Regions from separate parts of the Homo sapiens genome. Here region 2 is linked to region 1. The links come from fine-mapping of genetic effects on plasma protein levels. Region 1 holds a variant in brackets. A gene starts in the other region. All regions are shown on their reverse strands. Region 1 overlaps MIR4432HG (MIR4432 host gene). Region 2 holds the start of DRAXIN (dorsal inhibitory axon guidance protein).

What was found. PIP is the chance, under the fine-mapping model, that this variant and not a neighbour inherited with it causes the effect. Protein levels are from antibody-based Olink assays in UK Biobank. Linkage for the fine-mapping came from a reference panel and not from the study's own genotypes, which makes the PIPs less certain.
Region 2: DRAXIN starts here. The variant in region 1 is fine-mapped to the plasma level of the DRAXIN protein (UK Biobank, PIP above 0.99).

The regions. Positions count from the first base shown.
Region 1 is chr2:60,348,936-60,364,536 of GRCh38, reverse strand. MIR4432HG (MIR4432 host gene) reads left to right here. Exons shown (of 2, transcript NR_132992.1): 2 at 4,689-5,321. Among named protein-coding and RNA genes, the nearest start is that of MIR4432, 31 kb to the left of the region's middle. RefSeq lists enhancers at 10,836-10,885, 11,026-11,105, 11,586-12,085, 12,856-12,935. The variant T/C (reference allele first, on the strand shown) is at 8,302.
Region 2 is chr1:11,684,508-11,700,108 of GRCh38, reverse strand. It overlaps DRAXIN (dorsal inhibitory axon guidance protein), which reads right to left and starts at 8,399. Exons shown (of 7, transcript NM_198545.4): 1 at 8,256-8,399. It also overlaps a transcript of MAD2L2 not described here. RefSeq lists enhancers at 9,084-9,591, 9,592-10,101, 14,965-15,465.

The sequences.
Region 1 (15,601 bases):
TTGATCCTGAAGGCCATGCAGAGTGTCCCCCTTCAGGGCTTGGTTTTGGCACTGATTTGGATGCCATCAAGGAGCATGGGCAGGCTGGGATTCAGCAGGAACCTGGAGAGCCTGTGGGGTGTGACCCTAGGGGTTTATAGGGAAGAGATAACTCAGGAGTGTTAGGGGTGGTAGCTATCAGGCAGGAAAGGCCTACGTACCACAATTGGGTATTTTTTCAATGTCCAGAAAGAAGCTGCCTTTGGCTCCATCAGGCTAGTCATAAGAGAATATCACTTCCCATTGTAAAAAAAGAAATTGAGAATATGACAGTTAATATATTTGTAGGGCCTTGTTTAAGAGGTCAAGTGGTATTGAGAAAATGCAGTGGCATTAGAACTGGCATTTGTTACTAGGAGATCGTTGGGCCAGAAATGCTCTACTGCTCCCACAGTTTATAAAACACAACAAGATTGGCAGGTTGCATGATTTATGATGGCTTTAAAGTAACATCAAGATTAAGGAAAGTTTTTCAAGGGACTGCAGGCCATTTTTATTTTCTGCATCCACGCACATGAGTGTAGTGGGCTCAAGTGACTAAGAACAAGAGTGGGAGGAAGATTTTCATGTTTCTGGTGGTGTCCTTACACTTTAAAATAGGTGGGGATTGCTCACTGAGCTCTTCATTCAAGGGATTTTCCCCCTTGTAATTTGGAATGATCTGAGCAGTGCTTGAGCCTTTTCAGGGAGCCTACTGTCCAATTGCAGTGGAGGGTTCATAGAACACAGGGATCCCTGGTCTACTTTCAATTAGTCAGGACTAGAGGATTTCCCAGCTCTTTACACCTCTTCTCCAGGGTCTGTCTACCTTTTGGCTGTTTTGTTGTCTCCTTTACCAGGACGCTGGAGAAGAAGGACCCTGTAAGTCAAATGTAGTTTTTGTTTGAACCCTAAAATTCTGACAGCCCAGAAGCTCTTTAAAAGAAGCCTATGTATTGGCCCCATTAAACTTTTTTTTTTTTTGATCCAGGGTCTCGCTCTGTTGCCCAAGCTGGAGTGCAGTAGTGCAATCATGGCTCACTGCAGCCTTGACCTCACAGGCTCAAACGATCCTCCCACCTCAGCCTCCCAAGTATCTAAGACTACAGGCATATGCCACCATAACTGGCTAATTTAAAAAATTTTGAACAGACTGGGTTTCCCTATGTTACCCAGGCTGGTCTTGAACTCCTCAACTCCTGATCCTCCTGCCTTGGCCTCCCAAAGTGCTGGTATTACAGGCATGAGCCACTGTGCCTGGCCTTGGCTGTGTTTTGATATGGCAAGTGAGAGTTGGTTTCCTACATCACGTATGCAGCTTTGAAGCTTATAAGGAAGAAAGATGGTGGAAACTCAGGTGAGAGAGGCTTTGGGACTTGGTATCGACATGAATATCCGGCTGGTGTGAGAGAGAGTGATGTATGTGTAGGTGCTCCTGTGTGTGTGTGTCCGTGTGTGTATTTTTGAGAGAGAGAGGTTTGCTTCAATGCCTAACTTTGGCATGAAATAGAGAAAATGATGCTCCTTACTCTAATAAGTAAATCTGTTGACAATACTTTTTGCTAGGTACAATCACATCTTTGTAAACTCTTCCCGCAAATCAAATCATGACAGAAGATGTGGCCATGGAAACAAAATCATTACTGTTTTGTTTCAAGAAGGTGGACTGAACCACAATTCAAGTGGAAGGTCCATCTTCTGAAGTTTCTGGCTTATACTAGTACTAGTTTTTTTTTTTCCCCCAAAATGGTTAATTTTTTTTTGTTTTGGTGAGACAGAGTCTTGCTCTGTTGCCCAGTGGCACAATCTCGGCTCACTGCAACCTCTGCCTCCCGGGTTCAAGTGATTCTCCTGCATCAGCCTCCCAAGTAGCTGGGACTATAGGTGCATGCCACCATGCCTGGCTAATTTTTTGTATTTTTAGTACAGACGGGGTTTCACCCTGTTAACCAGGATGGTTTCGATCTCCTGACCTCGTGATCGGCCCACCTGGGCCTCCCAAAGTGCTGGGATTACAGGCGTGAGCCACCGTGCTCAGCCGCTATCTACTTCTCTTCCTGTGTTTTCTGTTCTCTTTCTTCTGGGCTTTGCATTCTTTCTACCGTTCCCTACTCCTCCTCCCTGGCCTCCCAGGTCCTCCCTGGCCTCCTGACTTCCCCTTTCTTTCATATCTCTAAGTCTTTCCCTCTTGATTTCATCATATATCAAACTATCTAATAATAGTATTAAAATTTTACTTGTCTTTACACACATGATTTCATTAACTTGCTTCTCCAAGTGATTATTCTTTCTCCTTTTGCGTTGGTGGGGTTTGCGTAGCTGTTCCTCTTTGAGGAGGCCACCATGACTCTGGCGATTTGCTCTGAGACGCTACTTTCCACCAACTACCATATTGGGTGGAAGAGGCAGATCCAATTTTTAACTTTCTAAGGTAATAAATTCAGGAAACCCCAGCTGAGGCCAACTCACAATATCATTCATTTTGGTTTCTACTTTTCATAATTGAGTGCCTTTTTGTACTTCTCTTTGATAAGTGGAGTTAACATCTCCATGTGAACTGGAAAAGCTAAGTTGGTGGTAGTCCCTTGAGGATTTTGTGTCTTGCTCTGACACCTTCATTGACTTCATCAGAATTTAGATGTATTAAGGGATCAAGGAGTTGCACTTATGTGCATGAAGTTCTCAAGGTGTTTGGAGAGCCTGTTCCTAAGCCAAGTTCTGATGGTCCCTAGGAGAGAAAACTTTTTGCCAAATGAACACAGTTTGATGGAAAAGTTCATGACAAGCCAACATAATACTTTAACCATTTTCTAGCAGTGACTCAGCAGTTATGGAAAATGACTATGGGAAAAATACCAAAAAATTCTTCTTTTCTGTCTTCCCCTACTTTGATAAGCATTCTTTTCACTTCTCCTTCCAAGATTCAGAATTGTACTTTCATTCCCTTGTTGCTTTTCTTCTCAAACTGGGGAGTGTCGAGTGAGGTGGTGGTATCCTGGGTGAACCCTGGGCTGTAGGATAAACATGGCAACTTTCATGGAGCATTTATTTTACTTATGAATTTTTGAGGAAAATGTAATTAATGGAAAGATCATCATTACATGATGGAGTCAAATGCAAAATTGGCATTAATGTTAAATAAAGCAGGAAACTTCAAACTTTGTTGTTGTTGTTGTTATTGCTGTTTCTTGTTTTTTTGAGCCAGAGTCTCATGCTGTCACCCAGGCTGGAGTGCATGGAGTGCAGTGGTGCTATCTTCGTTCACTGCAACCTCCATTTCCTGGGTTCAGGGGATTCTCCTGCCTCAGCCTCCTGAGTAGCTTGGATTACAGGCACCCACCGCCATGCATGGCTAAGTTTTGTATTTTTAGTAGAGACGGGCTTTTGCCATGTTGGCCAGGCTGGTCTCGAACTCCTGACCTCAGGTGATCTGCCCACCTCGGCCTGCCAAAGTGCTGGGATTACAGGCGTGAACCACGGCGCCTGGCCAGGAAGCTTCAAACTTCTGTTTGAGGTTCTCCAGTTCAGCCCCCATCTCACGGTCTCCAGAAGTAGGATTCTGCTCTTCAAAGGGGTGGGGAGGTGCATGACCCTGGAACCAATTACTCTAGTGGATTTCTTATCAGAGCTAACACAGATTATTTGTCTGACAGTGAATCTTAACATCCTTGGGGCATGGATCTTACTACATCTATAATGTCAACTTCAGTCATCCCTACTAAAGGCATTAGATATTTGCAGTTGTGTTATCTGCAATGTAGGAAGGGCAAAAGTCTTGGGTCAATTTTAACTCTTCTTAGTTTACGAAAATGTCTGGAGTACATATAGGCAACCCATAGTCATTTGGGGACTTGTCGTTTGTGTGTGGATTATCTCAGCTTCTTATGTTCCACATTTCCACTTACCTGCTTTTGGACATTTCTTCACTCATTAGGTTATTTGTGATGAGTCAAATCCCAAATACACAATCCCAGATCAGGCTCAAGAAAGACATGCAGAGTATGTGCTCTTGGCAAAGGCCTCCTGATTTCCACAGGGCTTTGACCCCATGCTCGATGTGAAACTCCTTTTCCCGCTGAATCTGCTGCACCAGCATGGGTCTCAGGATTCCCTTAACCCTCCGGTTCAAAGCCAGCCTCAAAGCAGTCTAATAGTCCTCTTAGTCCTTAGCCCCACACTCTGATCTTGGTCTGTCAAGTTTCTCTCTTGGAACAAGAGTAAGCACAGATCCTCAGGGAAGAGCAGGCAAAGAGGAAATTTCTCTTTGAGGCCAGAGAAGAGTTGATCCAGGGTGCCCACTCTTGGCCAACCCTCAAAGGTAGTGGTCCCAGGCTCATCTTGCCCCTCCATGGCAAGTGGGTGCTAAGTGAGAAGCATGAATAGATGAAACCCCAAATAGCACCCTGAAGCAGACATCCGCACTTCCTCACCCTTCTCTCCTCATAGGCAGAAACTTGGGGGTGGGAGAGGGGGAAGAATTAGGGTAGCAAGGCAGGCATGTTGGGGGCAGGGTTGGAAGGAAGTTTAATGTTCGGATGTGTCAAGTTTCTCCTTGTGGCTGGAGTGTGAGACTAATATTTTGCCCCTACCAAAGGAAGGCCATGGCTGATAGAGACAATGATATTACATGCAATGCTTCTTTCTTTTCTTTTTTTTTTTTTGGTTCTTAGGTGTGGCAAAATGGCTTTGTTGTGGTGGAAGATGAATTGTCGTCTCAAGGGGGCAGAGGACTGCCTGTGAGCTTCCTTAACATGGAGCCCGAAACCGGTGTTTGCACAGTCCTTGAGGAAAGGGTTTGCTCAGCAAATTAACAGTGTGAACAAGACTGCAGGAGGGACCATTTACCTACCTGAGAACAAACTGTTTTCTAGCTCTTCAGCAGCACCACTTACGCACAATTTTCATGTGCTAATGGCAAGTGATTATTACCTAGTTAGTGAATATACGTGGAAGACATAAAATAGCCTTTACTATCCCCTGGTTGAGACAACTCGCTAACTCAGACTTGCCAGGTGCTCTGAATTAGAGAGGTGCTACAGGAATGTCCTCTCGGATTTTTGGCGTTGAGCATGCATGCATGTGAGCAGGGTGCCATTTCTTCAGAAGAAAAATAAATGACAACATTCTGTTTTGGGGCTTGAAACTGCATGACTGAAAACATAAAGGTGACAACTGTGATATGCTTTTTTAATGAGGGCAGAGATGTCAAGAGAAACCAGCCTTCTAGGAACAAAAGAATACTCTGTCAGGTGCAGTGGACTTAAGACCTTTTTCTCTCTTGGAATAATGTCCTTAAAAATAACCAAATTTTCCATTCAATAGAAAAATGTTCATCCCTTCCTCCCCATCAATATGAATTGTTGTCTTGGAGCATGGGGCACTAGCAAGCCATATTGATTTTGGAAATTAAAATGGGAATGTTGAAGAGCGTTTTCAAAGAATTATATGGGATTTTAGCCATCTGAATGGCTTTCTTTTTAGGGTCAGTGAGAGTATTCTGGCTAAAATGTAGCCCATTGCTTTAGAAATAGTTTCCTTAATGTCTTTCCTGTCGCCCCTGCTGGGTCTGTGCAGGAAATGTAAACCAACATACAATATGTGTGTTTATTTTCATGTCCCATTTTATGGGAAATTGGATGGGGTATTCCACTGAGGCTTCAGCTATGATGTGTTGACAATATAGGGGGAGCAGGGAAGACTATTGCTGAAAGAGTTTACAAGGGAAGAAGGGGGTTCTATAACCTTTGAGAACTATGGGGAAGAGCCAGGCCTGCCAGCGAGAGCTCCGTTACTCAGGGGCCAGAGGGAGGCATTCAATAATGAAACCGGCTGGTGAGTTGCTCATCCATTAAATGACATCCTCACCAGCCAGCCCCAGTTTCCAGCACAGTTGGGATGTTGTGCCACACCTCATCTTGTGAGATGTTATGTCTGATACTGTGTGGTCTTCCTGCCTCTGCTGGCCATAGGAAACTCAGGCTACCAAACACCCAATCCAGAGTCCATAAGGGGTCACTAACTGGGTGGGGGGCAGAGTTACCCGGAGGACCCCTGCAGGAATGCAGAGGTTAGAGATTGTCAAACCAGTCATATCCTGGCCTTGTGCAGGTGGTGGCAAAACTGAACCTTTTCCTGGGATCCTACTGGAAAAGCAATTTAAAAAGTGCCTGGGTAGCACGGGGCCTGCTCAGGGAGTGTGGGTCCGTGTATTTCCTGTAAAATGTTTGAAATCTCAGCGTTAGGCCCATCTGTAAGACAGCAGTAGGTGTCAGTGGGAATACATGTTTTTCCTGCAGAAGAAAAAAGTTAGCATGTTTGCATTTTAAGCTCATAAACAGCTGCAGCCTGGACCGCCATGGCAAGCACGTTGGGGCTGGAGGAGCTGAGAGCTGCTGTTTGCCGGTGCACAGCAGCAGTTTCCAGTTGTAGACTGAAATATTGTATATATCTCCAATTTCAATAGGACTTTGTTTTGTGTTTCTAAACAAGGAAATTGAGGAGTGTCAAATTAATTTTTTAGTCCTGGTCATTTTTTAATTCCAGTTGGCCAGCTCGGCCTGGATTTGTACAAATACCGATTCCAGAAAATAGTTGAAGTACTAAACTTAGTAAATAAATGTGTTTATCTTTCAAATAGATTCAAGATGAAATACCCAGCACTTCTCCAGGGCATTTCTGTCCCTGCCTATTCATTTTAGCAGCTTGACCAAACTAATTCCCTTCCCTTAGTGTAATATTTAAATGGACTTCTGGCATCTGATACATTGCCTGCTGCTCCAATTCCCTAAGAAAGTCATTTAAATAGATTTTGACTATCTTGCATCTACTATAAAGCCAGTCAACTAAAAATCCTGGTCACTTCTCTCTAATTTTAGATGAGCCATGTGGAATTATTGGCTTTTGAGAAAATTCATCTTATCAGAGCTGAAAGTTTTGGATTTAATTTTTAACTATCTTTTTTTTTTTCTTTCCCAGCAAGAAAAATGAATGAAAAGACAAATAAGAAAGTGTTGCCATACAAAGTTAGCGAGCTGTCAGATAGATATAACTACTAAATGAAAGTCCACATTAAACTTTTGGGGCAAGATTCTCACTCCGCCTTCCCTCAACTCCAAGCCTTTGCTCCACTCCACTCATGCCCAATCTGAGAAAGGAAAAGAAGCAAGTTTGACACGTATCCTGCCTTCCAGGAATTTGCGATCCAGTTGAAGAGACAAGCTCTACCCATTCAGAGGGTGGCTTGTGTGATTTGGGTTTTCTGCTAGGCACAGGATGAGGGGTGCAGAGGGGAGTGGGGGAAATAGATCCTTATGTATTGGCTGGGGACCAGGACTTGGGGGTATTATAATAAGTTGGCCTGAAGGAATAGCGAGAGGTGGGTATGTGAAAAGCAAGCTGATAACAGCATAGAGATGGCAAATATAAGGGGAAAGTGGCCACAAAAGTGAGCAATGGAATGCCAGGTGCAGTGGCTCACGCCTGTAATCCCAGTACTTTGGGAGGCTGAGGCGGGTGGATCACAAGGTCAAGAGATTGAGATCATCCTGGCCAACATGGTGAAATCCCGTCTCTACTAAAAAAATACAAAAATTAGCTGAGCGTGGTGGCACGCACCTGTAGTCCCAGCTACTTGGGAGGCTGAGGCAGGAGAATCACTTGATCCTGGGAGGTGAGAGTTGCAGTGAGCCGAGATTACGCCACTGCACTCCAGCCTGGTGACAGAGTAAGACTCCATCTCAAAAAGGAAAAAAAAAAAAAAAGTAAGCAATGGAGAGCAAAAGGTGGAGGTGGTGGACAGGGACTCGGCCAGTCTGACTGCATCCCCAGAAAGAGAGAGGACCTGGTGGAGAGTGTGGGGCTATGGTGGGGAGGCCTGGAGTGTCGGGCCAAGGACTTTAGATTTTTTGTTGTAGCCAGTGGGACGGGATTGTCATGAGATGTGGTGGAGGACACAGAAACCTGAGGCAGAGAGGCTCCTGTTCTCCACACTCTGGGGCCTTGGGTGGTGCTTATGTTAAATCATGACATGAGTCACCAGAAGGAGAGCCACCCAGATGCGGGAGGGCAGAGAATCTCTCTGAGTTGGGAGTAGGGAGAGAATGCTGCAGACTGGAGTTGTCTGGGAAGGTGTCTTGGAAGACGAGGATTTTGCCAGGTGAAAGGGAGTAGTAGGAAAGTTATGGTATTTTGAACCATCTTCTACTACAGGAAGATGATTATTAAAGCAGCACTAGACCCTACCTTGGCTGTCAAGATGCATGAATAAAAATACACTTGTCACCA[T/C]ATTTACTTCCTGTTCCCTTTCTTCCCGTTTAAAATAGTAATTGATGCTTTCATTTTTTAAAACAGATGTTCTCCATTTTTCAGCATGTTGTGGGGTTGCAGAGTATGCGTGGGGCAGCAGCTGGTGATAACATCTTTTATTTTTTAATTTTCTGGCTGTGGATTGGAATTAGAATCAGGATTTAGAAATGGGGAAGCCGTGGCTTGTGGCCTGCATCCTGACGTCTTACATTACATCTCAGGTAGCAGTTTGTCCTTATGAATCAAACCTGCCATGCTACTGACAAATAGGAGGTATTTTTATATGATGTAAGTTATACCTGCTTGTGGTAAAACAAAACCAAACCAGAAGGTTTCCTTTTCTCCTAATTTGTCTCTCCAGAGGAAACCACTGTTAACAGTTTGGTTTATATCCTTTCAGTCTTTTTTCCTTTTCAGATAATAACAGTGGTAAGAACTAACCTTTACTGGGGAATCTGGACATGCCAGACACAATTCTAAGTGCTTTACATATATGAACTCATTTAGTCCCTGTGCCAGTCCTCTGAGGCAATATGACTGTTTTCCCCATTTGAGAGATAAGGAAACTGAGATGTTAAGTAATTTTCTGGAGCTCACGTAGGTAGTAGGCAGTGAAGCCAGGATCAATATCCAAGTGTTTTGAGTCCTAAATCTGTGCTCTTAGTTATGACTTTATGCTGCTGCCATGAATATGTATAGTGCATATACATATTACTACCTAGTTCTTAAAAAGATGAAATCATACTATAAGTGTTGTTCTGTGGTTTGCTTTTTTGATAAACATTAATACTGGGGACATTTCCCCATTTCAGTATATATAAATTTAATTCTTTTTAAAATGTACCTACAATTATACTGATGTAGCATCATTTTCAAAAACGATACTCTTCCTTCTGGCCATTTGGGTTTGCTCCAGATTTTTGCTATTATAAACAATATTACAGTGAACCTCTCAACAATAGCAGTAGCAACAACTACCATTAATCCTGAATAATGTGCTTACTGTGGGTGGGGTCCTATTCTAAACCTTTTCCATGTATAAACTCATTTAAACATACATCTTTATATAAGTGGGCTAGTGTTTCCATAGGCTAGATGCCTGGAAGAGGGACTGGTAGGTTAGAGGCCAAGTGCATTTAAAATTTTGATTGCAATTTTCCTCCCCAAACAGGCAAGTATTTATTAAGTGTCAGCTCTAAGTGCAACACCCTCTTAGGCATTCTTTGGAATGCACAGACACATGAGATAGGGGCCCTCCCACAGGTTTACAAGAGTGGAGAGACAAGCTGGTACAAGTCGCCAGGTGATGAAAACAGTCATTCCACAAGGCAAAGCTGGTGGCATATGCTGGGAGCACTACAGGTGTGTAGAGAGCAGGGAGGTCTGTGAGGGGTGGAAGGTATCAGGGGGAGCTTCAGAGAGGAACTGGGGCTGAATGAGGCTTGGAAGGATGGAAAGATGGAGGGAAGGGGTTGGAGAGCAATCCTGGGGAAGGGCCAAGAAGAACGAGGCTTAGGCGGGAGGTGGTGTAGTTGAAGAATGAGACAGTGAGTCTGTGGGATTGCCATCCTGACTGAAGCAAAGAGTGTGTTTTGGGAACTGGTCAGCCAGCCGACCATCAAGAGAAGAGTAGAATAAGAGTAGAAATGGACATCCACCTGTCACATGACTAAATTGTTTAACCCAAATAAAAGCTAATCAATTAACAAATAAAGCTAATCAATTAGCTTTATAAATGAAGCTAATCAGTTGCTAAACTGTGCTCTATTCTTCTGCCTTGACATAAGAATCTTTGACCTGGAACAGGTTTGAATTTAGAATTTTCCACTCCATGGACTATGGCACTGGAGGGTGGTGAATTACATTTCCCGATCAGTGCCAACAGAAAGAGAATAGGGCTTGTGATAATCAGATATATTTGCCCAAATCACTTGGATAAGTTTTTCTCCTCTGTCAATGCTGAAGCACGCTGGTGCTGGAGCAGGAAATCACAGCCCAGAGAAGGTGAGCAGGTGCCCTGTTCACACAGAGCTTGGAAGTTCTAATCTCTGACCTGAAGTGAGACATTGAAATAGAAATCTTTCTCTTCCTCCTCCCTCCTTACCCTACCCCCAGCCAACAAAGAAAGAAATGCAGGTGCATTTAACTTTGCCTGTAACTTTCTGTTCTGCAATGAAAATGGCCTCCTGTGTTTTTGTTTCACAAGCACAATTAAAAGTCTAATTTCAAAGCTACAATAGGGAAGCAAGGGCGTCAGTAAGAAACCCAGAACTTGATGCAAATAATTGAGCCATTTTTAATTTGTTCAGTGTGATCAGGTAGGGGGAAATTCTATATTTAAATATAACCAACCACCTTGAACCTTGTATGGAAGTAACTGTGTAAGAAATGTTTGGTAACATGTTGCTGAAGTTGTAAAATGTGTACCTCCCAAAACAAGGATATTCAAAAGTTAAGTTTCTCACGGTGATGTTAACACATCCGCATCGCGTTGCACATGCTGTACAATTCTGCATCATAAAAAATGGATTTACAAGCTTAAGTACTACTCGGGAATATTACATGTGTGGAATGTGGCTGGGTTAATGTCACTGTGAGACCCTTAGCCGTTGCCAAGGAGGTTTCCTGAGCCTCAGCTGGGGCCAGGCGGGGGCAGACTGGAGAAAGCCGCTGCTGCCTGGGCCTGCAACTTTGCCTAATGAACAAAAACACCATTTTGGCCTCAAAGATCTTGAGCTCCACAAGCCACAAATCACAACGAGGAAGAAATCAAACATTAAGGTTTCTCTCGGATTATTATTGACCAGGACGGTCTGGAAATTATAGGATCTTTCTAAATGTGGGCAGGGGCTTCCGTGAGGTCCAGCAACACAGTGGCATTTGCTTTTACTGCTGCTATTTCTCTGTTTCTGGTTTTACTTACTCTGACCCCTCTCCACACCAGAGCCGGTGTGAGAGCTGCTGTCACCTGGCCTTTCCCAGAGCTGGAGGGAGTCCCTGGGGGACGAGTTGGGTGGCAGGTGATGCGTGTAGACTAGGATGTGAGATTAACTCCAGTCCGAAAGGGCCCTGGGATAAATTACACATGTCCGAACATATCCATAGAGGAGGAGTTGAGTGGAAATAGGCTTCAGGGGCAGCCAAAGAGGGAAAAACATGAGGACATTGTGTGTGTGTGTGTGTGTGTGTGTGTGTTGCTGTAATGATGGGAGGGAGGATGCAAGGCAGGACTTACGGGTCCTAGCCAGCTGTGCTGCACCTGGTCCGTGAGGCAGTGTGGAGTCCACCGAAACGACCCTCAAGCCTGATGCCAGTTCCAGAAGCCCAGTCGGCAACTCTGCCACCTTACACTCCTCTCCCCGTGGAACTGCCTGGGGGTGCTGGCATGGGGACATGAGGGATGTCTGACAGGAGAAACAAGCATTTCAAGAGTGTGTGGTTGGCTTCGCTGTCCTTTGGGGGGAGGAACTGGAATCAGTCAACAGGCAAGTAAGTTGTTATTGCACACCTTTTATGTATTCTGCTGGGCCGTGGGCTGCGGAGGGCACTAAAGGGGTAGAACATCCTGCTCCTCTTGAAGACGCCCAGCCTTTGGTCCCATGACCTCAGGCACATGCGTAATCTAAGCGGCAGCCCAGAACTCATGACGGGTGCCCAGTTCCTTGATGCCTCCTGAAGGAAATGCTGCAAGCTGTTCAGAGGATGGAGACTGCATGGGGGTGTTCGTAGGCAAGGAAGGCTTCAAGAAAGAGGCAGCTCTGAGCTGCTTTTCAAAGAAGAGAGGATTTAGACAGGCAGAGAGAAGTGGGGATCACTCAATAGAAGTAAATTCCACAAGCTCTGATCTCTATCCCTAATAGGGAACGGGGCTCCTAACAATAGCTTTTTTTTGTGGTCTGAATTCAGGCCCGACTCCCAGTTCCAGCCTGAACACTGGTCAGCTGAAGACAACGCTGCCACCTTCATCTCTTCCCTGCCTGTCCTGCTTACAACAGTTGCAAGAAGTTTATACCCACATTAAGCCCCCAGAGGCAGGCTGGCAGCCAGCCTTCGCCACTGGTGCAGAGAACTGAGTCAACCACCCGGTGTTCCTGGCTGCTCCCCCTGAGAAGCTTTCCCACCCTGTTCCCTGAGTCGAGAGTCTTGGCTGGGCACCTGCTGCACTGTGGACGTGCGGACGCGGCCTCCAGAAGGGGGAAGGGAGCCCTGGCTGGCTTCTCTGAGACGTGTTGAGTGGCTTGCCATTGAAGACTGTTTCCTCACTCAGGCAGCTGCATGCCCCAAGTGAGTGACTTCCTCTCTCTGGACTCAGTTTCTGAATCTGTAGACAAAGAGGGTGGACCAGATGGTCTTGGAGGTGCCTTCCAGGTCACATCTCTCCTGTTTCTAACAGCAGGTGGAAGCAGGTGAGGAGGGCAGTCGGGCAGAGAGGAATGGAGAGGAATTCCCCCACAGAGGCTCTTGGGAACCACACAATTCCCCATTCTGGTGCCACCTGCTTCAAGGATGTGAGTGAGAGCAGTGCTGGCCTTGAAGCCTACATCGGTGGGTAGTCTAGCCTCCCTAGATGTGTCCTTAGGTGTCATGGGATCCATATCTGGATCATCAAGGAGACCTCACTTAGGCTTCTCTTGACTTACCAGGAAAGGCTAAGTCTTGCTTCGGGCAGGCAGCTGCCTCTGGGGCCCGGGCCTGTGGCCCCAGGGGAAAGAATTGTTGCCCCAAGATGCTCATGCAATGTTGTGTGACTGTGGCAAGGCTGTGCCATTTTAGCTGGGATCAACACGCTAATGGGCACAGGTCCAGGGGGAGTGCAGGTGCCTTCCTGGGTGCAAAGTGGCCCTCATCCCCATAGCACACAATGTCTGCACAGCTGAGGCTGGAAGGGACTGGCTGAGGGCCGTGCTGGTGTGGGCAGATCCCTGGAAGATCACCTGGGCCATCTCCTCATTCTAAAGATGAGAAGAACGAGGCTTGGAGAGGATGAGTGTCTTGTTGAGGGTTGCACAGCAAGTTGGGGACACAGCTGCAGGAAATCCAAGTCTCCTGATTCCTAGCCCATGATATTTTCTCTCCCACCAAGTTGAAAGGCTGAGGTGATGGGAGGCCTGGCATACCACAGATGGAAACTTGCATCGTTGCCCCCGGGGCTCAGATGATTCTCTAAAAATGTGTCTGAGGAAGTGAGAGTGCAGGGCCTCTCCTCACACGTTGGAGCTGTAAGTAGGGCACGTGCTTTCAGCTCCAGGCAGGACTGGAGAAGGTTATGGAAGGGCAGCCAACCAAGAAGCACTTATTTAAGCATTTTTATGTGCCTAGCCCTGAGCTAGGCATAGTAGGGCATAAAGGAGCTTTGAAGGACCCTCCCAACACAGCAATTTCACTGCAGCTGGTGAGCAAATTTAACTCACAAATCAATTACAAAAACAACCTCATGCAAGCTACTGTTTGTGTAATAAAATGTAAGAACATATATTTGTATTTGCGTAAAGGAAATCTGGAAGGATATAAAAAGATAATAAAAGTGTTAACTAAACAGTTACGTGATGGGGTGGGGGTGAGATTTTTGTCCTTTGTACCTTTTAATTACAAAATTATTTTGAACTATGTGAATGCATTTTCTTTGCAAAACATTAAATACAAACAATAACAAAAAACCCAGACAACTAAATGTGAATTGGGTGGCAAGGGGCCAAAGGGATTTGGGAAAAGCAGAGTTCAGAAGATGTCATAGAGCTGATCCAGGTTTCTGGAAGGCCAGAACTGGAAGAGACTGTTGGCGTTATTTTGTCCAACTTCCCATTCAATGCTCGTGTGTTTTGTACAACAGCCAAGACATGGACCTTCGAGAGTCCCTCACTCAATAATTCCTAAATGCTATGGCATGACAGTGCTAACCTAGGGGTCACAATGCACAGATAGGTCGGTCCCTGTCTCAATGGCCTTATGTTCTCCAAGTGTACCCTTGACTGAAGTGCCAAGGAGATTCTGATTCCTAGGGAAAAACAAGAAACACAGGAGTTAAAGGGCTTGGAAGGAGGATAGAATTAGGGAAAGCAGCAGAGTTTAGTTAGGATTTGAAATAAATCTCAAAGGAGGGGTCAAGTTTTGACAATCGGAGGACAGGAGTACCAGGTGGTAGGGATATGGATAAAGATAGAGATAGAGGCATGTTCTCAGGATTAGCAGGGGACTAGGCCAGGTAGGGTGGAATAGTAGGGTGGGAATCTGGGTGAGTATATGTTGTAGATTGTATTGACTGTCAGTTTGAGCTTTTTTTTTTTTTTTTAATTCAATAGAACATGGAGAACCAATAAAGATTCCTGAGCATGTGCTTGAGTCATTCTTCTTGAAATTCTCCAGTGAGTGGGAACTCCCTATTTCATCCAAGAACTCATGAGGATGAGCTTCTTGGAAGCAGTAGGAATTGATCTGGGGCTTCAAGGATCAGAATGTCGAAGGTACTCTGGGTGGAGGGAAGAACGAGTCTAGTGTTAATGCGCACTGGGAAAGGATTTTGAGCATGAGAGAGCATATCCATGCTGTGCGTTGGGTAGACAGCTCTGGCTGTGCTATCTAGGATAGGCTGGAGGAAGGGTTGCTTGAAGCAGCATGACAAGTTAGGAGTCCCTCACAATTGTCCTAAGAAGAGATTCTGAAAGCCTGACTTAGGAGGTAGTAATGGGAGTGGAAAGGCACACTGGAAAGACTCATTCCTCTCCTATCCCTGAGGTCCTCTTTGCTTGGATTAGAACAAAACAAAACAAGACAAAACAACCAACAAACTTCTGACTCACTTGCCAGTCTCAAGGGAAGAGACTATCCTTAGCTCAACAGTCCAAGATCTCTGTTTACTAGATATTTTCCTGGGTCATTTCTTTATTTCCTGTGCCACTGGCAGGGGGTGGCAGCTGTGGTCACCCTGGCCCTGGTGTTTTTTGGCATTTTGCTGCAGTTTAGATTGTGTTGATGGTAGGATAAACATTTCCATCCTTGGGCATCTTGTTCCATGCCAGAGGAAAGGTACTCAACGGTGTTGAAGCCACTGATACAGCTGGCCTCAACCTTCTCATCTTGCATATGAGAAAATGGAGGTCCGGAGAGTTAAAGAACATGTTCAAATCATGTGGGGAGAAGTGGGGACACAGGAGCAGAATTTAGTCCTTAGGTCTTGGACTTTTTTTTTAAGTATACCTTGCAGTTTTTATTGAATAATGCTAGTATTTACTGACCACATACTATGTGTCATACACTGTGTTAAAGCCTTCATTAATTTCAT
Region 2 (15,601 bases), not on the chromosome of region 1:
GCTGCCACCACGCCCAGCTAATTTTTGTGTTTTTAATAGAGACAGGATTTCACCATGTTGGTCAGGCTGGTCTTGAACTCCTGACCTCGTGATCCACCCACCTTGGCCTCCCAAAGTGCTGGGATTACAGGTGTGAGCTACTACACCTGGATTTACTTTATTTATTTATTTATTTATTTATTGAGAGTGAGTCTCGCTGTGTCACCCGGGCTGGAGTGCAGTGGCGCCATCTCGGCTCACTTCAATCTCCACCTTCTAGGTTCAAACGATTCTCCTGCCTTAGCCTCCCGAGTAGCTGGGATTACAGGCACGCACCACCACACCCAGCTAATTCTTGTATTTTTAGTAGAGACGGGGTTTCACTATGTTGGCCAGGCTGGTCTCGAACTCCTGACCTCAGGTGATCCACCCACCTTGACCTCCCAAAGTGCTGGGATTACAGGTGTGAGCACCATGCCTGGCTTGAGCCACTGCGCCCGGCGGTTTGCTTTAAAATAAGTAAATATTAGTCCTGGCTACTTGGGAGGCTGAGGCAGGAGGATCCCTTGAGCCCAGGAGTTTGAATTCAGTCTGGACAACATAGTAAGTCCCTGTCTCTAAAAAAAAATTTTTTTAACAAAAATTAAAATAAGTAATTATTATAAACTGGGGCAAAGCAGTGGTCGCACAGAATCTAGGTGGGAGAAGCCAAAGAGAGTTAGTCTGATCGCAAGTAGGGCTTAAAGGTGTGTTGTGTCTGCATAAAATAGAGACATTTTTGATTTGGGGAAAGGCATTCTTGGTGGTGGTGGAGTGCTACACTGCTTATAAAACACTGTTTTGTTGATTTTATGTATTGGGATTACGGATCGAATTTCATTTGGGAAAAGATTTGCACTACTCAAAACATTTCTTTTTGGCAGGGAGTAGGGGAGGAGGACCACTGGGCCATTGGATTAGGTGGTCCCAAAGGCCCTGTCTGCCAAGGGAGCCTGAGAATTTATGATCTATGACGATAAGACTCCTCCATCTGTCTGTCTGTTCAACTGTCAGACCCCTATGGGGAGGGGTGACAGACAATATCCAGTAGGGTGTGGACTGAGTCTCCAGGAGCTAGGGGCAAAATCTTCCCTTCCGGATACTCCCAACCTAGGAGCTCTGTGGGGAGGAATTGTATCCCCAGATTCAGGAGATTTTGTTGAATGCAGGAATCATCTCAGGTTTTATGTCTCTGTAGTTCCAGGAAGATTTTACGATTGCTTTTTTGTTTGTTTGTAGACAGAGTCTTGCTCTGCCCTACAGGCTGGAGTAGTTGTACCATCATAGCTCACTGTAGCCTCAACCTCTCCAGCTCAAGCAATCTTCCTGCCTCAGTCTCCTAAGTAGCTGGGACAACAGCCACAAACCATCATGCCAGGCTAATTTTTTCTTAGTTTTAGTTGAGATGAGGTCTCTCCCTATGTTGCCCAGGCTGGTCTTGAACTTCTGGCCTCAAGTGATCCTCCCACCTTGGCCTCCCAAAGTTCTGGAATTACAGGCGTGAGTCCCGGGCCCAGCAATTGCTTTAACTTGAGATTGATCTGCCCAACTTTTCCCTCTGGCTACTCCTCATCACTCACATGGACACTTCCTGAAACGGCAGGAATTGGAGATGGGCAGTGCAGTCCGGAAGCCCCATCTGCTCTTAGCAGAGTGTGGCCACTCTGCAGTCAGCCCCAGATCTAGTTAGGGCTTCCTGGAGCCCCGGCCCCCTAGGAGCAGACTTCTGTCTTGTTTAGGTGGAGCTGACACCCCTAGGGCTGGAAAGTGGGTAATTTTCTTGTTCAGTCAAAACAGTCATATCCTACATGAGAGTTGGGGAACAACTGTATGGATTCTAAATTAATTCCTGGGCTGAGCTCTTCCCAAGGTAATTTGAAACGAGAGTGTTCTAACCCCCCTCCTGATCCCTCCCAACATCTCCTCCCTTCATGAGTCTATTCCCTTGTCTGTGAAATGGGATTATTAGGCTGCCATGAGACTTGACTACTTAGGAAGTCAGTGCTTCTGTGTGGTTTGTGTGTGGGTGGGTGGTGGTGGTGTTCCGGGTATGGATGGAGCCCGGCAGTGCAGGTGGCATAGAGGATGGGGCGGGTGGGATTCACAGCAGCTGCCCTGCTGGGTGTTCACTGGCATACTGGTGCGTTGATCATCCTGGACTAGTCCCTACCCATCTCCCTGCCTCCCTGTGGCTCTGTATCGCCCAAAGTGTCACCTGACCAATAGGAAGGGGCCTCTCAGCAACCCCTAGGCCTCAGAGCAGCCAGAGCCCCACCTACCCCTCCACGGGTCTTTCTCAGGCACAGAGCTCTGCCTTTTGCTCTGCTGGGGACTGCTGCCTCCTTGCGATGGAGATCGCAGGGGAGAGTGAATCCCGGTGGTCAGCCACTAGCTGAGCCCCTCTGTGTGCAGAACCAGGATGCCAGACAAGGGCACCTGCTCCAGTCTGAAGGGAGAGACCTGGCTTCTGCTCCTGGAAACCACCAGTCTGAGGGCGGACACATAGTCCTGGCTCATTGGGATAGGAGGGAACCAGGTCATGCCTTAGAGGACTCTATGACTATTAGGGGACCTAGCCCATGGCTGCAGAGTGCTTTCAATCTAAGCCAGAAGCAGCCCCTGCCCTGGGGAAGCCTCCCATCTAGCAGGGTAGATACAGTTGCTGTCCTCAGGAATTTGCCAATCTGATAGGAGAGGCACAACTCTGGCCTTGGGAGGGTCCCAGAACATGGAGCTGCTGATCTGCCAGCAAAGACACAGTCCTTGCCTCCAGGTGTCCCCACTGATAAGGGAGACAGTCCGGGTGAGAGGCCACAGGTCTCATTAATGAGAGGTGGAGGCCCAGACATCACTACTACCGATTCCAGCTCACAGATGTCAGCCCAAACCCACTAAGCTGACCCATGGGAGGGCCCTCACTGAGCAAAGCAGAAGGAGCTAGACAACCTGGGCAAGTTTTTTAACCTCTCTGGGCCCCAGTTTCCTCTCTTGTAAAATGTTAGCTGTCATGAGGATTGGGGAGTAAAAGTTGTTTTTTTTTTTTTTTTTAATTATTAAGATGGAATCTCGTTCTGTTGCCCAGGCTGGAGTGCAATGGCACGATCTCGGCTCACTGCAACTTCTGCCTCACGGGCTCAAGTGATTCTTCTGCCTTAGCCTCCCAAGCAGCTGGGATTACAGGCATGCACCACCATGCCTGGCTATTTTGATTTGTTTTGTTTTTGTTTTTTGAGACAGAGTCTTGCTCTGTCACCAGGCTGGAGTGCAGTGGCGCGATCTTGGCTCACTGAAACCAGGAGGCTCATTGCCTCCTGGGTTCAAGCAATTCTTCTGCCTCAGCCTCCCGAGTAGCTGGGACTACAGGTGCACACCACCACGCCCGGCTAATTTTTGCATTTTTAGTACAGACAGAGTTTCACCGTGTTGATTAGGATGTTCTCGATCTCTTGACCTCGTGACCTGCTCGCTTTGGCCTCCCAAAGTGTTTTTTGTTTTGGTTTTTTTGAGACAGATTTTTGCTCTTGTTGCCCAGGCTGGAGTGCGATGGCACAATCTCAGCTAACTGCAACCTCCGCCTCCCAGGTTCAAGCGATTCTCCTGCCTCAGCCTTCCGAGTAACTGGGATTACAGGCTCCCACCACCATGCCCGGCTAATTTTTGTATTTTTAGTAGAGACGGGGTTTTACCACCTTGGCCAGGCTGGTCTCGAACTCCTGACCTCATGATCCGCCTGCCTCTGTCTCCCAAAGTGCTGGGATTACAGGCGTGAGCCACCGCACCCGGCTGGGGAGTAAATGTTTATAAAGTAAATGGGACACAGAAGGGTGAAATAAACAGTAGTTGTTACTATGGGAAGGGGAGACAGAGGGAGTAAGGTGGCAGGCATGGGTGTGGTGGGGGCCAGGGAGTTTCCTGGAAGCATTTGTGCATCTGTGCCTGGGTGTGCAAAGGGGCAGGCGCAGGTGGCTGCGTCCTCTGTCCTCAGTGGGGTGATCGATGGCAGGGCAGGACTGTCCTAGGCCAGCCTGGAGGGGACCATTGTCCTGGCAAATGAGGTTTGGCTTCCCTGCAGGGGCAGCTCCATCTGCTTTTATTGTTTCCGACAGCAGCCTTGGGATTTTCAACCCACCCCAGACCTCACACCTTAAAAACCTGTACAGGGGCTTTGCGGGAGTTCATCAGAGGCCCCACCCATTCAAAGGCCTCCAGCTTCCAGCATTCCCCGCTCACCTGCTGAACTCGAGTCCTACCTCCTGCTAGATTATAGGTACTTGTGGCCCCTCTTCCTCCTCTCCTAGGCAATTTGTGGGTGGGGGAAGCAACCCTCAGCCTCCATATTCCTCAAACTTCATTATCTTGGTACCTAGACCATTTAGCTCTGTGTTTGTTTGGGTATCATCTACTGTTCTAGGTTCTAGGCCCAGAGCTTTATAGGCATTATTTAACTTGACCCTTTGAAGTATATATATATATATATATTTTTTTTTTTGAGACAGAATCTCACTCTGTTGCCCAGGCTGGAGTGCAGTGGTGCAATCTCAGCTCACTGCAGCCTCTGCTCCCTGCAACCTGTGCCTCCTGGGTTCAAGTGATTCTACTACCTCAGCCTCCCAAGTAGCTGGGATTATAGGCGTGCACCACACTTCCCAGCTAATTTTTGTATCTTTTTTTTTTAGTAGAGATAGGGTTGCACCATGTTGGCCAGGCTGGTCTCGAACCCCTGGCCTCAAGTGAGCTAGCTGCCTCGGCCTCCCAAAGTGCTGGGATTATAGGCATAAGCCACTGCACCTGGCCTGAAGTGGATAATATTTTTCAGATGGTAATAGCAACAATGGCTGTGTAGGAACATTAAGACAATGACCAAGGGACTTGCCTAAGATAGCCTAGTAGAGCAAGTGATAGAGCTGGGATTCGAACCCACAGCCATCTGACTCCTCAGACTCATCATCCCTGCTCCATCACATTCCTGGCCGAGACTGCTCCTCATGCTGCCATCCAGTAACCAACACCAGTGCAGCTGCTGTGAGTCCCAGGGAAGGTGGCATGAGCTGGGGCCTGACCCAGAGCCTGGTACACCTGAAAACCATTAAGTCCTGCAATGAGCTCCTTCCAGTTGCTCTGGGTTCTAGCAGGAGCCTCATCCCTCATAACCACCCCTTCAACCCCATCCCATCAAGAGAAGTCTTGGTGTTGGGGCATGGGTGGGTCATGGTGTTGGGGCATGGGGCGTTGTCAAGCTGGAACCTGGGGTGGCAGAGCCTCTACTGGCAAGGATTCAGCCATCCTCCCACAACCTTCTTCTTCTTGGGGACCACTGGCCACAGCGACTCACCCCTGAGAAGGAAGGCTGGAGTAGGGCATGCAGAGAGGGCCAGCGGAGCAAGAGGGAGGCAGCTCCAACCCACTGGGCCAGAACAGGGGTGCTCCTATGACCTGCCCCCCAGGAACATGCTCATGCCTCTGAGGGAAGTTCGGGGAGGCTGGGATGCAAGTCCCTGCTCCATCACATTCCTGGCCGACACACGTGAAGGAACTCCCTCTGGGTCCCACAGCTGCTAAGTGATCAGCTGGGCTTCAAACCCAATCTGCACGGCTGGGGTGAGCCACTTCGTTCTCTGGTCTCAGTTTCTACCCCTATAACAGGCACAGAGACCACCCTCATTTTCCAGAGTGATACAGGGCCTCAGTATCACAGGGGTTTCCGGGCAGCTTGCTCCCCCTCCAACCTCCCCAGCCAGAGGGCCAGCTCCGCCCTGGCCCCACCAGCAGGACCCAGCAGAACTCAGCAAGACACTGGGGCTTGCAGTTTTCAGTTCATTCCTGTGCCTTTGACCAGGAATCACATTCAATATAACAGGTGTGCACAGAGCCCCTACTGCGTGCCAGGCACTGGGACCACAAGCAGAAGGAGACCCAGCCCCCACCCAGGGAGGAGCAGACCCCTCCCAGATAGGGATTATGCCGTGCAGTTCACAAGAGCTAGGGAGGCAAGGGAGTGCCGGGGTGCTTCCCACAGGAGAGGACATCAGACCTCCTTGGTCAGCAAAGACAGAGGGCTGAGATCAAACACAGGGCAGGGCAGAAAGAGCCCTAGCAAAAGCTCAGAGGAGGGCAGACTGTGGAGATGGTCAGTTCTCCATCGTGGCTGCAACCTGGGACGCAGAGGGGACAATGCTGGGAGGCAGGCAGGACAGGGCTAGGCTGGGCTGAGGTCTCTGTAGTTAACTGAGTGGCCACAGTGAGCCACTGAGGACTATGGACTGGGAGGGCGATGAATTGAATAGTGGGGAGGAAGGCAGCGGAGAGAGCAGAGAGGACCTGAGCAAGGTTCCCAAGCCTCTGAGCTGGCTTTGCTGCAGAAGGCAGGGGGTAGAGATGGTATGAAGGGCCGGGTTCACCAAAGTAGGGCCTGTCTGCCAGGTCGGATTTCGAGCAGGAGCCTGGATGGGGGATGTCGTGGGGATATCCAGCCGTTCTTGCCTCTAAAGAGAAAGGTTCCAGTTGCCAGCCCTGGCTGTGGCTGAAATAAGAACTCAGCCAGGGGAGCCTGGAACCTGCCAGCTGGGAGGTTTCCCTCTTCTGAAGTTGCCCTCATTAAGACACTCAGGCCACGTCACTGCCAGACTCCTGGAGTGGTGTGTCACATGTTATGACCACCTAGACAGTGGTCAGGGGGCTTGGGCAAGCACACAGCAGGTCCAGGAGCCAGCAAGACAATCCCCTCAGAGGAAAGGAAGTGGCCTGTGAGCTGGTGCCGCTATTAAAGGCATCAAGCCAAGACTGAGGTTCAGAATTGGGGGTGAGTCACCGGACGCCTTCTGATGGGTGATCAGTTGTTGGCAACACCAGCTCAGCCACACTGATCTCATTTTGAAAAAAAGTGACCCATTGGCCCTGATTGTTTTAGCTGATTTTAGGACAAGCAAAGAGGAGGAGAGAGAGAAAGAGAAGAGTGCTTGCAAGGGTGTGGACGCCTGTATGGGCACGAGGAGGTGAAGGTGACAGGAAGTGTGATGGGGGAAGAGGCTGTGGTGGTGGGGTTACTCTGAAGTGTCTCTAAGCCTTGACTTTGAGATCCATTTCTGTGGAGCCCCCTGTCCCCACCCCATCCCAGGTCTGTAGACTCCCCTCCCCTCCCCTCCCTTCCTCCACAGGGTGTGTGAACCAGCACCAAGCGGCACCCCACAATTTCCACACACATCCCTATAGGTAGGGACTAGCACCATCCCTGTTTTGTGACAGGAACACTGAGGCTCAGAGAGGTGCATTCCTTTGTCCGAGATCACTCCCAGAGCCCCAGTGTACCCGACTCCAGATGCATAGTACTGAACCGGTTCCAGACACCAGTGTGTCACTGGGCTGGGAGGTGGGCAGCGTGGAGGGAGCATATAGGGCAGGGGAGACCACCGGGCGGAGAGGATGGCCCAGGGAGCACCCAGCTGAGGAAAGCAAGAAAGACTTGGCGGGAAACCCCAGCCCTCTCTCATCTCATACCCCGGCCCCGAAGGCGGCTGAGACCCTTGACGAGCGGACGGAGAAAAGCCAAAAGCCGGCGGTGGGGAGCAGGAGGGACAGAGCGGGAGACCACAGGCGAAAGACCAGCGCCGTCGGGGGAGCCAGGCTGAGTACCTTCCTGGGCACAGATGGGACGGCGCGGGGCCACCGGCGGTGCTGGTTCCGGGCGCACTCAGCGACCCCGGCCACACACCCCAGCCTCCTGGGCGGCCTCGAAAGGGGCTGGAGGGCACGCCCGCCAGCTCTGCCCGGGGCTCAGGGAGTCTTCGAAGACTTCTTCCAACGGTGGCGGACTGGGGCCCCCTGCCTGAGAGACCACCCGGAGACTCAGAGACAGAGAGACAAAGGGAGACTGGGTCAGGGAGAGAGAAGGCTAGTGCCGAGGAGAGTAGGTGCGAGCCGGGACCCCAGAGGGCGGCGAGGGCGCGCGCGAGGCCGAGTGTCAGAGCGTGGAAAAGTGGGCGTCCAGCGGTAGGTGGACGGATGGGGAGCCCGGGAGCAGAGCCAGGGTCCGTGGGCAGACGCGGCGAGGAGAGGAGGCGGCGGAAGGACTGGCGGATAGACGGGTCCGAGGGCTGGGAAGGAGGCAGCATCCTCACTTCCAGCCTCGGGACCCCGCGCACCCCGCCCCTGGGCGCGCCAGGTAGCCCACCTTTGTCCGGGCTCGCAGCCAGGTGGGGCGGGAGGGGCGGAGCCAGGGGCGGGCCGAGGCCGTGCCTTACCTGTCCGGCCGGCGGGTAGGGGGAGGAGGGGCTCGGGGCCGAGCGCCCGCGGGAGCCGAGCGCAGCCGAGGGCGAGCCGCGGAACGGGGCCGGCGTGGAGAGGTGCGCGGGCAGCCGGAGGATGTGCCCGGGCTGAGCGGGACTGGAAGGAAGGGGGAGTGGGCGGGCAGGAGGGAAGGGGGCGGGAGCGCGGGGAGGGGACAGAGGAGGGGCGGCGGGTGGCGGGCTCGACTGCCCCCAGCCGAGGGGCAGCCCCGGGGCCGGGCCCGGCGCGCACCCGGCCAGCGCGCCCTCGCCAGCTGCGCTCTGAGTTCTGGGCCAGCTCCCCAGAGGCCTAGGCGCCGCCGCCGCGAGGGCGCGGGGCAGACAAAGGAGGCAGACAAAGGCGGGCGCAGCCCAGCAGCCGTGCGGGCACCGGGCGAGGCAGGCCCACTCCTCCCGGTGCGTAAGAGCCGCCTCGGCGCGGCCCAGGGCGCGTGGGACGGGAGGGGCTCCGGCAGTTGTGGCGCCTCTGGAGCGGCCCCGCGCAGGGCGGGCGACAAAGGGCCGCGGCGGGCGGTCCTCGGTGGACCCCAACAATGGAGCGAGGCTGCGCGCTCAGCTGCGGCCGCGTCTGTCAGGGCAGGGGCCCGGGGCCACAAAAGGATTATTCCGCCTAGACTGTCAAAAGGGACGGAAGAAATGCCCAGGGCGGGGGAGGCGGGACGGGGAACGGCGGGGCCTTTGTAGCCGCAGAAAGTGCGCAGAGTGGGCAGGCGGGGTTCTCCGAGAGGTCGCTCCTGGATGTAGGGGTACAAAGGGTCTTCAAAGTGCTACCAGCTCACCTGGGGCGCTGACGGCGCACCTGTGCCCTCTTTCCCGGTAGGGAAGGGAGAAAGACAACCGCCCCAATACACACACACACAAACACACACACACACACACTCACACGCGGCGCGGCTCTCGCCACGCCCCGTCCAAAGCCGGCCTGAAGCTTCTCAGACCGGCCCAACCCGGACAAAGCCAGCGCTGGGGCCGGCTCATCCATCACCGCGCGGGGCGCCGTGTCCTGACGACCCTGGGAGTCTGAGAATGCTGGGTTATGGGTCCCGTGCCTCCCATAACTCACGACGGGGTCGGTGGGGCCACGGACGCTGCAAAGATCAAAGAGCGATGGGGCCGGACTCCCATATGTGGGAAGCAGCGCTCCCACCTGGCGCCCTGAGCTCGCCAGGTGGCTTCCATTTCGACTGTTTTCTTTCTCCAGCGTGTGGCAAATTATGACTTTGAGGTTTTAGAACACAGTTCTGCCGTCAGGCTAAATGTCTGTGTTCCTCTTCTGATGCCGTCCCCTATGACCTCGAGCAAGTCGCCTGACCTCTGAGCTCATGATTATACCTAAATTTCAGTGTTCTAGGCGTGAATGCAGTGCCCTGTGTAAGGAGATAACGTTTCTAAGGTCTGGCCCATAGGAAATGCTCCTGTAAAATTAGCTGCCATTGTTACCGTGATATTATTAGCTTGGTGGGCACCAGGATGGATTGATGAGAACACTGAACTGTTTATTCACTGAAAGGTTTGAGTCATCCATCCCATAAATACCTATTGAACACCTACTATGTGCCGGCACCGGAGGTACAGTAGTAAACAACATGGACAAGAATCCCTGCCCCCATGGAGCTCAGATTCTAGTGAAGGAGACAGAAGATAAGTGAACAAATAAATATAAATGATGTCAGGTGGTGATTAGTGCTATGAAGAAAAGTAAAGCACATTACAGACAAAGCATGAAGGGACGAGGTGTTGTTTTACATAAAGTTATTAGGAAAGGCCTCTTTGCTGGGGCAGTTCTTTTGGCAAAGAAAAGGAGGTAATGAGCCACGTGGTTGTGGGGAGAAGACTTGCAAGCAGAAGAGCCACTGCAAAGGTCCTGGAGCGGGAGTGTGCTTGGTGTGTTTGGTGGAGAAGAGTCAGTCTGGAACAGAGTGAGGTGACATCAGACAGGGAGCTGGGATAGGACCATGTTGTTACAGGAAAGGGGTCCTGACCCAGACCTCAGGAGAGGGTTCTTGGATCTCGCACAAGAAATAATTCAGGGCGAGTCCATAGAGTAAAAAGTTTATTAAGACAGTAGAGGAATAAAAAGAATGACTACTCCATAGACAGCACAGCACCAAGGGTTGCTGGTTGCCCATTTTTATGGTTATTTCCTGATGATGTGCTAAACAAAGGGTGGATTATTCATGCTTCTCCCCTCCCCCCGCCTTTTGTTTTTCTTTTTGAGAGGGAGTCTTGCTCTCACCCAGGCTGGAGTGCAGTGGCACAATCTCAGCTCACTGCAACCTCCACCTCCCGGGTTCAAGCAATTCTCCTGCCTCAGCCTCCCGAGTAGCTGGGATTACAGGTGCACACCACCATGCCCGCTAACTTTGTGTTTTCAGTAGAGATGGGGTTTCACCATGTTGGCCAGGCCGGTCTTGAACTCCTGACCTCAGGTGATCCACCTGTCTCAGCCTCCCAAAGTGCTGGGATTACAGGCTCGAGCTACAGCACCCAGCCTTTTTTTTTTTTTTTTTTTTTTTGAGACAGAGTCTCACTTTGTTGCCCAGGCTTGTATAGTGGCACAGTCTCGGCTCACTGCAACTTCTGCCTCCCAGGTTCAAGCGATTCATGCCTCAGCCTCCCAGTTAGCTGGGGTTACAGGCACACACCGCCATGCTCAGCTAATTTTTTGTATTTTTAGTAGAGACAGGGTTTCGCCATGTTGCCCAGGCGGGTCTCGAACTCCTGACCCCAGGCAATCTGCCTGCCTTGGCCTCCCAAAGTGCTAGGGTTACAGGGGTAAGCCAGTGTGCCTGGCCTTTGCTTCCCCTTTTTAGACCATATAGGGTAACGTCCTGATGTTGCCATGGCATTTGTAAACTGCCATGGCACTGGTGGGAGTGGAGCAGTGAGGATGACCAGAGGTTGGTCTCGTGGCCATCTTGCTTTTGGTGGGTTTTGACAGGCTTCCTTACTGCAAACTGTTTTATCAGCAAGGTCTTTATGACCTGTATCTTGTGCTGATCTCCTGTCTCATACTGTGACTTAGAATGCCTTAGCCATCTGGGAATATGGCCCAGCAAGTCCCAACCCCATTTGACCCAGCCCCTACTCAAGATGGGGTTGCTCTGGTTCAGACACCTCTAACAATGTGAGCCTGCAAAGGCCACAGGGAGGACTTGAGCTTTTTAGAGGGACCATGAGCAGAGCAGAGACATGATCCGACTTAGGTTTTTAGCAGGTTTGCTGATTGCTTTTTCTTTTTTTTTTTTGAGATGCAGTCTTGCTCTGTTGTCCAGGCTGGAGTGCAGTGGCGCGATCTTGGCTCACTGCAACCTCTGCCTCCCAAGTTCAAGCGATTCGCCTGCCTCAGCTTCCTGAGTAGCTGTGACTACAGGCACCTGCCACCATGCCTGGCTAATTTTTTGTATTTTTAGTAGAGACAGAGTTTCCCCATGTTAGCCAGGATGGTCTCGATATCCTGACCTCAGGTGATTCGCCAGCCTCGGCCTCCCAAAGTTCTGGGATTACAGGCATGAGCCACCGTGCCCGGCCACGTGTGCTGATTCCTAAGGTTGGGAGTAGTCTGCAGTGGGACAAGGGTGAAAGCAAGAGACCAGCTAAGTACTGTGGCAGAGAAGAGATGATGGTCACCTGGGCCTGGGAGAGGGGGCAGTGTGCAGCCAGCATGATTTGCGTCGCCAAGGATAGAGCTGTGGGCCAGTATTCATGAGCCAGGAGAAAAACCTTGGAGTCTCTGGTTCAAATGCTGCTACTGTGGCTGTCCCCTGGCTGGGTGATCTTCCGATGTGCTTGGAGCTGGGGTGACACAATATGAAAAGGTGGATGTTAGGAGAGGCCTGGACTCCTATCCCATCCAGTTTATGATGACTTTAGGGCCTCAGTTTCCTTGTCTGTAAAATGAGGTACTTGAGGGGCCAAAGCAGGCTCCAATATTCATCAACTGATGACTGGATAAGCAGATGTGGTCTATCCATACACGGGAGTATTTTGGTTCTACGAAGGAATGAAGTATCAATATGTGATTCGACCTGGATGAATCTTGAAAACATTATGCTAAGTGGAACAAGCCAGACATAAAAGACCATATTTTGTACAATTACTTTTATATGGAATGTTCCGTATTGGCAAGTCCAGGTCAGGCGCAGTGGCTCATGCCTGTAATCCTAGCACTTTGAGAGGGTGAGGCAGGAGGACCTCTTGAAGCCAGGAGTTGGAGACCAGCCTGGCAACATAGTGAGACCCCTTCTCTACAGAAAATTTTAAAAATTAGTCTGGGCGTGGTGGCTCATGCCTGTCATCCCAACACTTTGGGAGGCCAAGGTAGGTGGGTCACCTGAGGTCAGGAGTTCGAGACCAGCCTGGCCAATATGGCAAAACCTCATGTCTACTAAAAATTTAAAAATTAGCCAAGCGTGATGGAGGTCGCCTGTAGTCCCAGCTACTCGGGAGGCTGAGGCAGGAGAATCGCTTGAATCGGGGAGGCAGAGATTTCATTGAGCCGAGATTGCACCACCGCCCTCCAGCCTGGGTGGCAGAGAGAGACTCCGTCTCAAAAAAGAAATAAATGAAATAAAAATTAGCTGGGTGTGATGGTGCACACCTGTAGCCCCAGCTATTGGGGAGGCTGAGGTGGGAGGATCGCTTGAGCCCAGGAGGTTGAGGCTTCAGTGAGCTGTGATTGCGTCACTGCACTCCAGCCTAGATGACAGAGTGAGACCCTGTCTCCAAAAAATAAAATAAAAAAATAAAAAAATTGGACAATCCATAGAACAGAAAGTAGATTAGTAGTTTTGGAACTGATGTACCTGGCAACACACTTTGGGCATGAACAACCCTTCTCAAGACATCAGGAGTGATGAAAATGTTCCGAATTAGAGAGTAGCGATGTACAACATTGTAACTATACTAAAAATCACTGAATTGTACCCAGGGAAAATGTGAACTTTATGGTTTGTGAATTATATCTCCACAGAGAAGTTTTTTTTTTTTTTTTTTTTTTTTAAAGTGGCAGTTGAGCTGGATCAAAAGTTCTTACCTTGTGGCCCAGGATGGCTTCTGAATATATCTGGACACTCCTGATGTTGTGTAAGGCATTTAGTGTCTCTGGGCCGGGCGCAGTGGCTCAAGCCTGTAATCCCAACACTTTGGCAGGTGGAGGCGGGCACATCACTTGGGGTCAGGAGTTCGAGGCCAGCCTGGCCAACATGGCGAAACCCCGTCTGTACTAAAAGTACAAAAAAATTAGCTAGGCGCGGTGGCTTATGCCAGTAATCCCAGAGCTTTGGGAGGCTGAAGCAGGAACTCTGGAGGCCAAATGTTCAAGACCAGCCTGGGTAACACAGCGAGACCCTGTCTCTATGAAAAAAGAGCAGATGATCAGTAAGGTCCCCCTGACCACTGAGGGGTCAGCAACACTGGGAATCAGTAGAACCCCACGGAGGGAATGGCAGGTGAGGGCTTTGCTCTGGCTGAAGTGTCGGAAGCCATCTCAGGTCAGCAGTGAACCCTGGGATCTGGGACAGCTGTCCAGGTCAGGCCTCACACCAGAAGGCAGATGAGAGCGGAGAGGAGCTGTCAGCAGGAAGTCCTTGTCTTTAGGCATCTTGTTCCGTGATGATGCGTGTCCTCCCTAGGGCACCTTGGGAGTTGCCTGCTGCCTTGGGAAATGGAAATGGAGCTATGGGGATGCCGCTAAGGATGGTTTGGATGGGGTTTTGAAAAGTGTGACAGCTTGTCCAGAGGGTTTGTTCTGGGGGCTTAAATAGTGTATATAGACCTTAATATCATTGTCATAACAGTCATTAATTGAGCATTTATGTGCCAGGCATTGTGCACTTTATTTATTTGTTTATTTTTTGAGACAGGGTCTCACTTTATAACCCAGGTTGGAGTGCAGTGGTACAAACATGGCTCACTGCAGCGTTGATTTCCTGGGCTCAAGTGATCCTCCCACCTCAGCCCCCTAAGTAGCTGGGAATACAGGTGCACGCCACCATGCTCAGCTAATTTTTATATTTTTTGTAGAGTTTTTGCCATGTTGCCCAGGCTGGTCTCGAAGTCCTGAGCTCAAGTGGTCCGTCCACCTTGGCCTCCCAAAAAGCTGGGATTATAGGCGTGAGCCACCATGCCTGGCATTGTGCACTTTATATTTTTTATAAACATGAACATGGACATAAACATTTGCTCTTTGCTCAATCCTATGAAATTAGAACTACCATTATGCCATTTTACAGATGAGCAAACTGAGGTTCAGAGAAAGAAGGGCCTCGCAGCTGGTTAAGGGGCAGTGTTGGGGAGAGAAGCAGCAGGTTGGACACATGAGCAGGCCCAGTGGGTGCTGGGGACACCATAGGGAACATGCCACAGCCCTTGCTTTTGTTTTTGAAAATAGCTTTTCTCTGCATAGTGCCACCCATAGCCCGGGCACTGAAGTCGACGTGTTTTGCTCCTCATCCAGACTCAGTTGGGATTCAAGTCAGGCAAGTGGTAATGAGCCACTGTCCACCATCACTTCATTCCTCTGCCATTCATTCTTTCATTCACTCATTTGACACACATTTGCTGAGAACCTGAATTCGGGCTGGGCATGGTGGCTCAAGCCTGTAATCTCAGCATTTTGCGAGGGTGAGAGGCAGGAGGATCACTTGAGCCCAGGAGTTCGAGACCAGCCTAGGCAACATGGGGAGACCCTGCCTCTGCAAAAAATTTGAAAAATCAGCCAGGTGTGGTGGTGCACACCTGTAATCCTAGCTACTCAAGAGGCTGAGGTAGGAGGATCCCTTGAGCCCAGGAGTTTCAGGCTGCAGTGAGCTATGATTGCCCCACTGCACTCTAGCCTGGGTGACAAGGAGAGACCCTGTCTCTGGGAAAAAAAAAAAAAGAGAGAGAGAGAGAGAACCTGAATTTGGCCAGGCACTATATTGAAATAATGAATGAGGGCTGGGTCCCTGCCCCGGAGCATTGCAACTGGATGGGCCCCTGAGCGTCAGGATATCAGGAGATTGTCACCAGGCTATGTGTGTCTCACTCTGTATGTCCCCCATACCCATGTGATTGGTGTCCTGGGAACCTTAGGCAGGGTGGGAGAGCTGATTCATTCTGCCATCAGCCTGGTGGGGATGGGAGGGGTCTTGGAATCATTTCTGGGGTCTGGAAACTTCATTGCCCGGTTCACTCACTGTGGGTTTGTTCCATAAACCCCAGCAGTCCTCCTCTGCCCGAGCAGGTCTTCCTCTTTGCTGGGCTGGTGCTCACAGCTCACCTTCTCAGTTTCCATTTCAGTGTCTCTTGGGAGTGATTTT